Linked DNA regions of Homo sapiens. The gene in region 2 interacts genetically with the main gene of each other region. Each region holds a gene or a part of one and is shown on either strand. Other genes may lie near its edges.

The links. A genetic interaction does not mean that the proteins touch.
Region 1: changes in NUP43 (region 2) and NUP54 together harm fitness more than expected from each alone (negative genetic interaction), as found in Homo sapiens cells (one large-scale study listed by BioGRID).
Region 3: changes in NUP43 (region 2) and TIMELESS together harm fitness more than expected from each alone (negative genetic interaction), as found in Homo sapiens cells (one large-scale study listed by BioGRID).
Region 4: changes in NUP43 (region 2) and NUP85 together harm fitness more than expected from each alone (negative genetic interaction), as found in Homo sapiens cells (one large-scale study listed by BioGRID).

What each region holds. Positions count from the first base shown.
Region 1 is NC_000004.12:76,127,898-76,131,397, reverse strand, and holds part of NUP54 (nucleoporin p54), read left to right. Parts: intron 1-113; coding exon 114-168; intron 169-648; coding exon 649-742; intron 743-3,500. UniProt on the Homo sapiens protein: Component of the nuclear pore complex, a complex required for the trafficking across the nuclear membrane.
Region 2 is NC_000006.12:149,733,030-149,736,529, forward strand, and holds part of NUP43 (nucleoporin Nup43), read right to left. Parts: coding exon 3,442-3,500; intron 1-3,441. UniProt on the Homo sapiens protein: Component of the Nup107-160 subcomplex of the nuclear pore complex (NPC). The Nup107-160 subcomplex is required for the assembly of a functional NPC.
Region 3 is NC_000012.12:56,442,927-56,446,426, reverse strand, and holds part of TIMELESS (protein timeless homolog), read left to right. Parts: intron 1-3,500. UniProt on the Homo sapiens protein: Plays an important role in the control of DNA replication, maintenance of replication fork stability, maintenance of genome stability throughout normal DNA replication, DNA repair and in the regulation of the circadian clock.
Region 4 is NC_000017.11:75,215,679-75,219,178, reverse strand, and holds part of NUP85 (nuclear pore complex protein Nup85), read right to left. Parts: intron 3,426-3,500; coding exon 3,356-3,425; intron 995-3,355; coding exon 873-994; intron 1-872. UniProt on the Homo sapiens protein: Essential component of the nuclear pore complex (NPC) that seems to be required for NPC assembly and maintenance. As part of the NPC Nup107-160 subcomplex plays a role in RNA export and in tethering NUP96/Nup98 and NUP153 to the nucleus.

The sequences.
Region 1 (3,500 bases), on a different chromosome or scaffold from region 2:
CACTTTTCATTATAGCTTCTAGGTATAGGGTCTTGCTTTAGGAAAGCCTTTGTCATACACATATTATAAAAATAGAAAATTGTTTTAGAAAAAATATTTTTTATTTGTGGTAGGTGTTGATCCTATTATCTGGGAACAGGCCAAGGTAGATAACCCTGATTCTGAAAAGTAAGTATGTCTTCATCTTGTTTCATTTAAGAACTAATATTTGCTACTAGGAAAGCAAACATGGGAGCTATTAATTATAATTCTTACATATGAGACAAGTTTATTTTCATTTTCCTGGCCTTTAAAAAATATTGATTATTGTCCAGCTAAAGCTTCAGCCAAAACAAAAAGAAAAAAATAAGAAAAAAAAAGATTATGGTAAGGCAGCATAGCATAGTGAGAACTAACTAGGAGCGGAAAATTCTATTTGCGTTTTCATTTAATAATGTAATGTTTTGACTGAACTGTATTTCCTCATTTGTAAAATAGGGAGGTTGAATAAAATCTCTTTGGTATAACATGGTTATCTCATAGTCATAGATCTGCCTTAGAGCCCTAGAAAGTTGATGTAAAATTACATGAGTGTTACTAAAACCTTCACTTCTTGTATTTTGTAGTAATAGGCTTAAGGTCTGAAAATTGTTCACTGCGTTTCTTCAGGTTAATTCCTGTACCAATGGTGGGTTTTAAGGAACTTCTCCGAAGACTGAAGGTTCAAGATCAGATGACTAAGCAGCATCAAACCAGATTAGATGTAAGCATTTAGCTTTTTATTCCCTGGCCCTGGAAGTAGGGAAAGGGATTATAGACATTTAATTCTTTTTAGTATATGTGCTACTGTTTTATCTTAATCAGGAAACAATGTAGCATACACTGCAATTTAATAGTTTTATACAACTACCTTCTTTATGATAGAAGTCCCCAAATCACATGAATCTGATTTGATATAATAATGAATTTAGAATTCTTGTCTTAGTGGATTAATTAGACTGTCATTTCCAGTTTCAGCCAGGGATTGCATATTATTATTTATGGGGCCTTATGAAAATGAAGGTTATAGTAATGATTATTTTATGTTGACATATAATTGTCTTGGTATATTATTGTATGTTGATAAAATTAATGCTTAAATATACTTAATATTTTATTTCATAAAGTAGACTTTTTTAGGAGACCAGGGTGGGTGGATCACTTGAGATCAGGAGTTCAAGACAAGCCTGGCCGACTTGGCAAAACCTGGTCTGTACTAAAAAATTCAAAAATTAGCTGGGTGTCGTGGTGCACGCCTGTAATGCCAGCAACTTGGGAGGCTGAGGCATGAGAATTGTTTGAACCCGGGAGGCAGAGGTTGCAGTGAACAGAAATCGTGCCACTGCACTCCAGCCTGGGCGACAGAGTGAGACTCCTCAAAAAAAAAAAAAAAAAAAAAAAAAAAAAAAAAAACTTTCATAATTAAATACTTAAAGATTCTTAAAGGTCAGAGAAATTTCTATGATTTCAATTCTTTTAACTTTGCTAAGGTTTTTTTTTTTTTTTTTTTTTTTTTGAGACGTCTCTCGCTCTGTCGCCCAGGCTGGAGCACAGTGGCGCGATCTAGGCTCGCTGCAAGCTCCACCTCCTGAGTTCACGCCATTCTCCTTCCTCAGCCTCCGGAGTAGCTGGGACTACAGGCGCCTGCCACCACGCCCGGCTAATTTTTTGTATTTTTAGTAGAGACGGGGTTTCACCGTGTTAACCAGGATGGTCTCGATCTCCTGACCTCGTGATCCACCCATCTCGGCCTCCCGAAAGTGCTAGGGTTACAGGCGTGAGCCACTGCGCCCGGCCAACTTTGCTGAGGTTTTATAACCCAGGAGCCTATGAAAATAATGTGTATTCTGCAGTCCTTGGGTGAAGTTTTCTATTAATGTCAGTGAGATCCAGTTGGTTGATAGTATTGCTCAGTTCTGTATTCTTGTTGTTTTTTCTGTCTGCTAGTTTGAGAAGAGATTTGAAATCTACAGCAACACTTACGGATTTGTGTTTTTCTCCTTTCATTTCTCAGTTTTTGCTTCATGTATTAATAGTTTGAAGGGCTGTTGTTATATAGGATTGTTGTGTTTTCTTGGCAAATTTACCTTTTATTATTATATCATATCCCTCTTAATCCTCGGTAAGTTTTAAATCTTCTCTAATGGCCTTTTCTTTTATTGTTTTTAATCGATACATAACTACATATTTATGGGGCATAGTGTGATAATTCAATACATGGATATAGTGTGTAATGATCAAATAAAGTAATTAGCATATCCATTACCCCATACATTTATCATTTGTTGGTATCATGGGAAATTCACTCCTATAGCTATTTGAAACACAATAAATGGTTGTGAATTATAGTTACCTATAGTGCTATAGAACACTGGAACTTAATCCTCCTATCCAGCTGTACTTTTGTATCTGTTAAGCAACCTTTGGCAGTTCCCTACTCCTACTCTTTCTCCACCTCTAGTAGCCACTATTCTACTCTTTTCTTCTACTAAATCAACTTTTTTTAGCTTCCACATATGAGTGAGAACATGCAGAATTTATCTTTCTGCACGTGGCTTATTTCACTTAACAAAATGTCTTCCAAGTTCATCTATGTTGCTGCAAATGGTAGCACTTCATTCTTTTTCATGATTAAATAGTATTCTATTGTGTGTGTATATATGTGTACACATACACACCATGTTTTCTTTATCCATTCATCTGTTCATGGACACTTACTCAAGACACTCAGAAGTCTTTGTCTGGTGTTAACATAGCCACGCTACCTTTCTTTTGATAAAAAGTGTTTGTATGGCATACCTTTGTCCATCTTTTTGCTTTTAACCTACCTATATTGTTATATTTGAAGCGAGATTCTTGTAGACAGCAAAAAGTTTGGATTTAGTCCTACCATTTATTTGTTTTGTGTTTGTAGCCTCTGTTTTTCATTCCTGTTTCTACTTTTCTGCTTTCTTTTGAGTTATTTGGACTTTTTTTTTTTTTTCAGCATTTCCTTTTAATCTATTATTTCAAGTCTTAGAGCAGTACTTCTTAGTAGTGGCTTGTGGTGGTGGTGGTGATTTTGTCTCCCAGAGCACATTTGGCAATGTCTGGAGACTCTTGGTTGGGGAGTACTACAGGCGTCTAATGTGTAGAGGCCCAGATGCTGCACACATTCTGCAGTGTACAGAACAGTACTCCCACAACAAGGAATTACCCAAGATTAATAGTGCTGAAGTTGAGAAACCTTTCTCTAGGTAATACGATGTATCTCCTCCCACTATAACTAGCAGACTTCCCTTGGAGCTCCCTTTCAGCATTTATGCTCATTTCCAGGTTTGAGGCTGGGTTGAAACCAGACTAGGGACGCCTGAGGGGAAAAATGGGTAAACTCACCACAAGTTTATTGGTACTTTAAATTCCTATCTTACCTGATCTTCCTGCCAGAGTTCCCAAATAGCTGCCCCGTGTATTCCATCCAAGTTTTATAGCTATATTAAATG
Region 2 (3,500 bases):
GGTGTGTGCCCAGCTAGGAATGACTGTCTTTTACGGAAAAGTTTTTTTTTAAATTGGTAAGTTGTCTTATTTTTCAATTCCTGTGTCATTAATATATGAAGATTATATTATTGGAAAAACTGAGAAAGATCCTAATGAAATATAAAAATGAATTTCTAAGAGGCAATATCCAATATTGGTTAATGCCAAGATTCTGAATACTTCTGGTCTTTATCACAGAAATAGCAACTGACTTCTACCAAACCAAAATTTGGAAATGTTCCAAGAATTTGGATCCAGTCTCAGATGGAGGGCTTTTTATTTTTTATTTGTTGATTATTTATCAAGAAAAACTATTTCTTAGCCCACATATGTATGCTTCATACTTTAGGAACATAGGTCAGTGACAAACTTCTACATAATTCAACTCAAAGAAATTCTCTCTCTCTTTTTGAAACAGGGTCTTGCTCTGGCGCCCAGGCTGGAGTGCAGAATGGCATGGTCATGGCTCACTGCAGCCTTGACCTCCAAGGCTTAAGCAATCCGCCTATCTCAGCCTCCTGAGTAGCTAGGACTACAGGTATGTATCACCATACCTGGCTAACTTTTGTATTTTTAACAGACATGGGGTTTCTCCATGTTGCCCAGGCTGGTCTCAAACAACTGGGCTCAAGAGATCTGTTTGCCTTGGACTCCCAAAGTGCTAAAATTACAGGCATGAACTACCGTGCCCAGCCCCAAAGAAATTCTATATATTCCAAAATCACTTTCAATTCTGAAAGATACCAGTCTTCCTCATTTCCTCAAAATCTGTTTTGTTTTGTTTTTTTTTTGAGACGGAGTTTCACTCTTGTTGCCCAGGCTGGAGTGCAATGGTGCGATCTTGGCTCACCACAACCTCTGCCTCCCAGGTTCAAGTGACTGTCCTGCCTCTGCCTCCCTAGTAGCTGGGATTACAGGCATGTGCCACCACGCCCGGCTAATTTTGTATTTTTAGTAGCGACGGGCTTTCTCCATGTTGGTCAGGCTGGTCTCGAACTCCTGACCTCAGGTGATCCACCTGCCTCGGCCTCCCAAAGTGCTGGGATTACAAGCATAAGCCACCGCCCCCGGCCATCATTTCCTCAAAATCTTTTATGGAATCATAATTTCTATAGAAATCTAATAATAAAAAAAATTAGCTAGGTGTAGTGGCATATACCTGTAGTCCCAGCTACTCAGAAGGGCAAGGCAAGAGGATCACTTGACCCCAGGAGGTTGAGGCTTAAGTGAGGTACCATGCCACTGCACTCCAGCCTGGGCAACATATTGAGACCCTGTCTCTACAAAAAATAAAAAATTAGCCGGGTGTAGTAGGGGTGCGTGCCTGTAGCCTCAGCTACTCGGGAGGCTGAGGTGGGAGGACTGATTGAGCCAGGGAGGCAAGGCTGAGGCTGCAGTGGGCTGTGATCATGCCACTGCATTCCAACCTGGGTGAGAGAGACCCCATTTTTAAAAAAATATATAGGGCCGGGCGCAGTGGCTCACACCTGTAATCCCAGCACTTTGGGATGCCAAGGCAGGCAGATAACCTGAGGTCAGGAGTTTGAGACCAGCCTGGCCAACATGGTGAAACCCCATTCCTACTAAAAATACAAAAATTAGCTAGGCATGGTGGCAAATGCCTTTAGTCCCAGCTACTAGGGAGGCTGAGGCAGAAGAATGGCTTGAACCCAGGAGGCAGAGGTTTCAGTGAACCGCGATTGTGCCACTGCACTCCAGCCTGGGCGACAGAACAAGACTCTGTCTCAAAAAAAAAAAAAAAAAAGGATAATCCATTCTGGCATGATATCAAAGACAGAGTGAGAAAATGAAAAATTTCTGTCCGGCTAAATCATCTCCACCAGAATCAAAAGAAAAAAAAAAGCTTATAAATCTATTGTTCATGTTAAAAAAAATGATGTGATGCAACAATAAATTGAGGAGCACAACATTTATTAACAAATATGACAGCCTGCATTTGCATGGGAAAAGGGCATTCTTGCACACTTCACTATGGCATATAAAATGGTATGATTTTTATCACTTTTCAGGGAGTGGGGTCTCACTATATTGTCCAGGCTGGAGTGCATAGGTGCAATCATAATGCACTACAGCCTTGAATTCCTGGACTCAAGCAATCCTCCTGCCTCGGCCTCCTGAGAAGCTGGTGCATGCCACTCACCTGGATTAAACTAGTATTATTAACTTTTTAAAGAGGTTATGTTGCCTAAGCTGGCCTCAAACTCTCAGGCTCAAGCAATCTTCCTGCCTCAGGCTCCTGAGTAGGAGGAGCCTGGAACTACAGGCATGTGCCAATGTGCCTGGCTTAAACTGGTATTATTTTTGTGTAGAAAAATCTGTCAATGCGCTATGCAAAATGTTTGGCCTAGCAATTCTACTTCTAAAAAATTATCCTAAGAAAATAAGTACATAAGGCTGGGCATGGGCATAATGGCTATGCCCAGCACTTTGGGAGAATCGTGTAAGTCCAGGAGTTCAAGGCTGCAATGAGCTATGATCACACCACTACTGCACTCTGGCCTAGGCAACAGAGAGAGACCCTGTCTCCAAAAAAAAAAAAAAAAAAAAAACACACACAGAGATAAATATCTAAGGATTCTAACTACAGTTTTGGATATAAGAATTAAACCTGTGGTTGATGTGGTGGCTCATAACTCATACCTGTAATCTCAGCACTTCCTGAGGATCACTTGAGCCCAGGAGTTTGAGACCAGCCTGGGCAATAAAGTGAAACCCCATATCTACAAAAAAAAAAACAAACAACAACAAAAAATCAGCTAGGCATGGTGACACACACCTATAGTCCTATCTACTTGGGAGGCTGATGCGGGAGGATCACCTGAGCCCTGGAAGTCAAGGCTGTAGTGAGCCGTGACTGCACCACTGCACTCCAGCCTGGGCGACAGAACCAGACCCTGTCTCTTTAAAAAAAAAAAAAAAAAAAAAACCAGGCACGGCGGCTCATGCCTGTAATCCCAGCACTTTAGGAGGCCGAGCTGGGCAGATCACCTCAGGTCAGGAGTTCAAGACCAGCCTGACCAACATGGAGAAACCCAGTCTCTACTAAAAATATAAAATTAGCCAGGTGTGGTGGTGCATGCCTGTAATCCCAGCTACTCGGGAGGCTGAGGCAGGAGAATCGCTTGAACCCAGGAGGCAGAGGTTGCGGTGGGCCAAGATAGCGCCATTGCACTCCAGCCTGGGCAACAAGGGTGAATCTCCGTCTCCAAAAAAACAAAAACAAATGTTAAAGAACTTAAATGTCGAGTAAAAAGAAATTACATAACTATTTAAATTTACACAATTCAGCCATTAAAAGCTATGATGTAAAATGATCCACATGTATCATTATGGAAAGGTGCTTATTATATGTCATATAACTCACCCAATATAAACTTTCTGTATCTTCACAATACTTACTTTCAGCTTCATGAGCCTTCAGCAGAGATACAGGCATAGTACCTTGTCTAACATCCCAA
Region 3 (3,500 bases), on a different chromosome or scaffold from region 2:
AGGCACTGGAGGTCACTGAAACTTTAGTTTTGTATAGTAATGCATGCTAATAGTAAAGAATTCAAATAGTACCAAAGGGAAAGACAAATATTTCTCCTATCCTAGATCCCCTAGTTCTCAGAGACGATCACTATGAAGTTTCTTATGTATCCATTGAAGTGTTCTAAGCAGGATTGTTATATGCCTAAATCAGGTAACCATATTGAGGCTAGATTGAACAAGACTGGAGGCAGCTGCATTCATGCCTGTAATCCCAGCACTTTGGGAGCCCAGGTGGGTGGGTCGCTTGAGCCCAGGAGTTAAAGACCAGCCCGGGCAACATGACAAAACCTTGTCTCTAGAAAAAATACAAAAATTAGCAGGGTGTGGTGATGTACCCTATAGTCCCAGCTATTTGGGAGGCTGAGGTGGGAAAGTCACTTGAGCCTGGGAGGTTGAGGCTGCCGGGAGCTGTGATTGCACCACTGCACTCCAGTCTGGGTGACAAAGTGAGACCCTCTTTCAAAAAAGAAAAAAAGTCTGGAGGCAGAGAAAGAGGATAGGAAGAGGTTGAGTAACCTAAGCAAGAGCTACTCAGGAACTGAACTAAGGCAGTAGCAATTGGGATAGAAGGATAGACAGCAACTGATAGAAGAACTTAAGGAAGTTAAGTGAGATGGAGCTAAGGTGACTCCTAGGTTTCTTTTTTTTTTTTTTGAGACAGAGTTTCGCTCTTGTTGCCCAGGCTGGAGTGCAGTGGTGCGATCTCAGCTCACTGCAACCTCCGCCTCAAGCGATTCTCCTGCCTCAGCCTCCTGAGTAGCTGGGATTACAGGCATGCACCACTACACCCAGCTAATTTTGTATTTTTAGTAGAGACAGGGTTTCTCCATGTTGGTCAGGCTAGTCTTGAACTCCCGACCTCAGGTGATCCACCCGCCTCGGCCTCCCAAAGTGCTGGGATTACAGGCATGAGCCACCACATCCAGCCTCTTTTTTTTTTTTTTTTTTTTTTTTTTTTTTTTGACGTGGAGTTTCGCTCTTGTTTCCCAGGCTGGAGTGCAATGGTGCGATCTCGGCTCACCGCAACCTCCACCTCCTGGGTTCAAACAATTCTGCCTCAGCCTCCCAAGTAGCTGGGATTACAGGCATGCACCACCACACCCAGCTAATTTTGTATTTTTAGTAGAGATGGGGTTTCTCCATGTTGGTCAGGCTGGTCTCAAACTCCCAACCTCAGGTGATCCACCCACCTCAGCCTCCCAAAGTGCTGGGATTACAGGCATGAGCCACTGCGCCTGGCCCTAGGTTTCTTTTAATAAGGTGAAACTCTTAGCCTTCTTCACTGAGGAGATAGTGTCAGTCCTTGAGAGAGCCAAAGTGGAGACAGACTTGGGAAGATGAGTTCAGCTTTAGACCTATTGAGTGTAAGGTATCTTTGAGACATAAAGGTAGAGAATGCTATTCAGTTAGTCAGTTTAACATACGAGATTGTCAACTCAATAGCTCAGAGGGGCCAGAAATACAGATTTGCTGGCTTCTGGCTTGGGTGGTAGTTGAAGTGCATGGGAGAGGGTGAGTTTGCCCAATCAGGCCGCGTACAGTGAGAAGGGAAGAAGGCTAAAGATGCAGGCCTAAGGAAAATCAGCACTTAAGTAGGAGGAGGAACAGCCAATAAGAGATCAAAGGGGAAAGTTTTATTTTATGTTGGATTTTTCCCCCCTTAAGATGAGCTAGGACAGGTGTGGGGGCACATGCCTGTAATCCCAGCACTTTGGGAGGCTGCGGTCGGAGGATAGCTTGAGCCTGGGGGCTTGAGGCTGCAGTGAGCCGAGATCGCACCACTGCACATCACTACACTTTTGAGATACTGCCTCAAAAGAAAAAAACAGATGGAATAGCCTTGAGCAACTCATAATATATGGGGATGGGGCTAGTATAAAGGGAAGGTTGGAAATAAGGAATAACCAACTAAGGGACAGGAAGTGATTAATGAGGATCACAGAGTACTTAGATTAGAAGCAAAGAACTAAGGGTGGGTGTTTGAAATATGTATGTTTTTAGGCTTGGGTGGAGAGAGTTGAGAGAGTTCATGTCTGATAACCTCAATTGTTCCTAACAGGAAGGAAGCAGATAAACCAGGTGGGAGGCAAGGAAGCAGTAGAGTGAAGGGGCTTGAGGATAATGATGAAAGTTAGGAATAGTGGTTCTTTGGGAAGAGACAATGAAGGGGACCAAGAATACAGAAATGAGGCTGGGCACGGTGGCTCATGCCTGTAATCCCAGCATTTTGGGAGGCCGAGGCAGGTGGATCACGAGGTCAGGTGTTCCAGACCAGCCTGGCCAACATGGTGAAACCATGTCTCTACTAAAAATACAAAAATTAGCCAAGCGTGGTGGCGGGCACCTGTAATCCCAGCTACTTGGGAAGCTGAGGCAAGATAATCGCTTGAACCCAGGAGGCGGAGATGCAGTGAGCCGAAATCACGCCACTGCACTCCAGCCTGTATGACAGAGCAAGACTCTGTCTCAAAAAAAAAAAAAAAAAAGAATACCGAAATGATTTGCTGGACCAGGCTGAAGGCCCTGCTCAGGTTGCAGGCTATACATGTTATCGGGGGAACCAGCCCCCAATATTTCAATGTAGGTTCTTTTCTATTTTCCCTAAGTGTCAGCTGGTCTCATAAATAAAGAGAAAGACTACAAAGAGAAGAATTTTACAGCTGGGCCTCTGTGGGTGCCATCACGTATTGGTAGGACCATGATGGCGACTTGAGCCGCAAAACCAGCAAGTTTTTATTAGGGATTTTAGAAGGGGAGGGGGGTACGAATAGGGAGTGGATCACAGAGATCACATGCTTCAAAGGGCAATAAAAGATCACAAGGCAAAAGGGCAGAGCAGGATCACAAGGCAAGGGCAAAATTAGAATTACTGATGAGGGTCCATGTCCCACTGGGCACACATTGTCTTGATAAACATCTTAACAGGAAACAGGGTTTGAGAGCAGAAAACCAGTCTGACTAGAATTCACCAGGCTGGAATTTCCCAATCCTAGTAAGCCTGAGGGCACTGCAGGAGACCAGGGCATATTTCATCCCTTATCTCAACCGCATAAGACAGATAATCCCAGAGCAGTCGTCTATAGGCCTACCCCTGGGAATGCATTCCTTCCCCAGGGTTATCAATTATTAATATTCCTTGCTGGGAAAAGAATTCAGTGATATTTCTCCTACTCACATGTCGTTTATAGGCTCCCTGCAAGAAGAAAACTATGGCTCTATTCTGCCTGACCCCCCAGGCAGTCAGACCTTATGGTATCTTTCCTTGTTCCCTGAAAATCGCTGTTGTTCTGTTCTTTCTCAGGGTGCCCTGATTTCATATTGTTCAAACACACGTTTTACAAACAATTTGTACAGTTAATGCAGTGATCACAGGGTCCTGAGATGACATACATTGTCAGTTTATGAAGATGACGGGATTAAGAGATTAAAGACAGGCATAGGAAATTATAAGAGTATTG
Region 4 (3,500 bases), on a different chromosome or scaffold from region 2:
TTGTCCTCACAATCTGTTCCCAATTTCAGGCTTTATAAGTTTAGTTGACTTTCCATTAGCCCAGTCAACTAGCGATCTCCTCCCTGCCACCTCCCAATTGGGTCAGTCAGCAGAGGTGAATGGAAATACCTAACACATAGAAAATACATCCATATACACATATACGACATGCTGACTTCGAAACTGATGATCCAAAGTAATGTGCAAGCTCATTTACATCCAACCCTGTATGCACCCCAGCCCCTGTCAATTGGTTTTATATCATTACCCAGGCATGGTGGTTGGCACTTGTGGTCCCAGCTACTTGAGAGGCTGAGGTGGTAGGACCGCACAGGAGGCGGAGGTTGCAGTGAGCAAGATCAGGCCACTGCACAACAGCCTGGGGAACAGAGTCGGACTATCTTTTCTCTTTTATATTTTTATTTATTAATTTGTTTTGAGATGGAGGGTCTCACTTTGTTGCCCAGGCTAATCTCAAACTCCTGGGCTCAAGAGATTCCTGACTTGGCCTCCCAAAGTGCTGGCTGGAATTACAGGCATGAGCCACCGCACCCAGCCGAGACCCTGTCTCAAAAAAAAAAAAAAAAAAACGGTTTTGTATTCCTTTTTGTGTCTTCTCTTCCTTAGATCCACAAAGAAATCAAATTTCCTTTTACCCTGGAAAAGTCTTCAAAGCATTATTTTTCTTACATGGTACCTCGGTTTTAGACTCTCCCATAGAGCAGGGAAGAAAAGATCCAAAAGAGTCTCCATAGTAACAGACTCCAAAAGCCAGCCTACTGCTGGAGGCTCAGTGGGTGTCCTCAGACCCACCCGGCAGCACCAGGGACAGTAGGACACATGGTGGGAGGTGGGGGCCCGGCCTGTCTTACCAAGTTCCAGAAGCTGTCATGTTTGCTTGGATTCTCACTGCCCAGAACATCTGCCGACAAACTGTCCACCTCGCACACATGGAGCCGGACCCAGTCAAGGAGATGGAGGAGGAGAGGGCCAGCTGGGAGGAGAGACTCTCATCACACACAAAAGCCTCAGCTTCATCTGCAGCAAGTTCCTTTATCCAAGGAACAGAGAACTTTAAGGCAGACAAGCTGACTACATAGGTTTATCCCTTTTAAGCAGTCACACACATGGTCCTGAATGACAGACTGTGCTAGGAAAAAGCAAATGCACTTTCACCAAATATTACTTCTGTGCCAGGCAGCTCCATCTTTAACTGACCCCAGAAAGGGGTGAACATGGAATGCAGACCTCACTACCCCACACTCCAGATTCTTCACAAATACTTAATAGCTACATAAGTAATGGCCGTTTAGGAACCAACAATGACTAGATAGCAAGCAGCCAGGTATGCAATGATGATAAAAACATAGGGCCAGGGGGCTGGTGGTGCACACCTGGAATCCCAGCACTTTCGGAGGCTAAGGCAGGTGGATCATCTAAGCTCAGGAGTTCAAGACCAGCCTGGACAACATGGTGAAACCCTGTCTCTACTAAAAATACAAAAATTAGCCGGGCGTGGTGGCGCATGCCTGTAATTCCAGCTACTCAGGTGGCTAAGGCAGAATTGCTTGAACCCAGGAGGCAGAGGTTGCAGTGAGCCAAGATCGCACAACTGCACTCCAGCCTGGGTGACGGAGTGAGACTCTGTCTCAAAAAACAAAACAAAACAAAACATATGGCCGGGCATGGTAGTTCATGTCTGTAATCCCAGCACTTTGGGAGGCTGAGGCAGGCAGATCGCTTGAGCCCAGGAGTTTGACACTAGGCTGGGCAACATAGGGAGACCCCATCTCTACAAAAAAAAATAAAAAATTAGCCGAGCCAGGAATGGTGGCTCACGCCTATAATCCCAGCATTTTGCGAGGCCAAGATGGGCAGACTGCTTGAGCCCAAGAGTTCAAGAACAGCCCGGGCAACATAGCGAAATTTCCTCTCCACAAAAAATACAAAAATTAGCCGGGCGTGGTGGTGCAGGCCTGTGGTCCCAGCTACTTGGGAGGCTGGGCAGGAGGATTGCTTGAGCCCAGGAAGTCGAGGCTTCTGAGCTGTGATCACGCCACTGTACTCCAGCATGGGTGACAGAGCAAGACCCTGTCTCCCCTCCCCCAGCATATACACACAAAAAATTAGCCTAGCATGGTGGCACGTGCCTGTAGTCCCAGCTACTCAGGAGGCTGAGACAGGAGGATCGCTTGAGCCTGGGAGGTCCAGACTGCAATAGCTGTGATTGTACCACCACACTCCAGCCTAAGTGACAGAGTGAGAACTTGTCTCAATCAATCAATAAAAATAAAATGAAATAAAATGGCAGAGTACAGCCAGCACTCCGTATCCATGATGTAGAACCTGCAGATACAAAGAGCCAACTGTAACCTCCTCAAAAATCCACTGGAGAAGGGAGGCCTCTGAACAACCAACTCTAATTTCAAGTTCCTCACTTCTTTAGTGAGAGTATGAATAAAATGCTAGGGCTACACAGAGGTTACTACTCATTTATGGAAAATAGCAAACATAAATCCTTAAAAGAAATGCAAAAAAGCTGCAGCAGATCCACAGAGAGCTCATACAGGCCATGACACTATACTGACCACAGTTTAATTCAAGATCAACAGAAGGCTGGGCACGGTGGCTCACACCTGGAATCCCTGCACTTTGGGAGACCGAGGCAGGCAGATTACCTGAGGTTGGGAGTTCGAGACCAGCCTGACCAACATGGAGAAACCTCATCTCCACTAAAAATACAAAATTAGCCAGGCGTGGCAGCGCATGTCTGTAATCCCAGCTACTCAGGAGGTTGAGGCAGGAGAATCGCTTGAACCCAGGAGGTGGAGGTTGCGGTGAGCTGAGATCACGCCATTGCACTCCAGCCTGGGCAACAAGAGTGAAACTCTGTCTCAAAAAAAAAAAAAGATCAACAGAAAAATTCCCATTGGCAGAGTTCATACCCATTGGCAGAGTTAACACACAGAGTTGCCCTGTCCCAATGATTCATGACAGAATTCCCAATGTGACTTTGCCTCTCACCACCTAATCCTACCCCACATTCATAAAACTTTCTTAAGCTTGGCCAGTCCATGATGTTAACACTGACACCCCCTTTCACACACTAGTTTAATATTTCTCAGTACTTGTCAGGGTTTAGGTTTCTTGGAGGCACTCTGCATGATTCTTTTTGCAGCACCTGACAAAACGGTCAGGTTTCTTTGGGTGTTTTCTAACGACTTCCCGTGGTTATAATGATGGAAAGAACATTCTCAGGAATAAAACACTCATCACCATGCACAGGAAAGATGAGGAAAGAGCAGAAGATGGAAGGGGACACCTATGAGATTATGGTGAGATATTCCATGCCTACCTGGGGCCACTTCAATAAAAAGAATCTCACACAGGTTCCAGATGAGCTCCATTGCTGACAAAATGGAGACCTAAGGAAGAAATGGGGACAGGTTTCACCTGAAATGATTCCTGAGCTTTGCTCTCAGAGCCAAGGGATAAAGCAG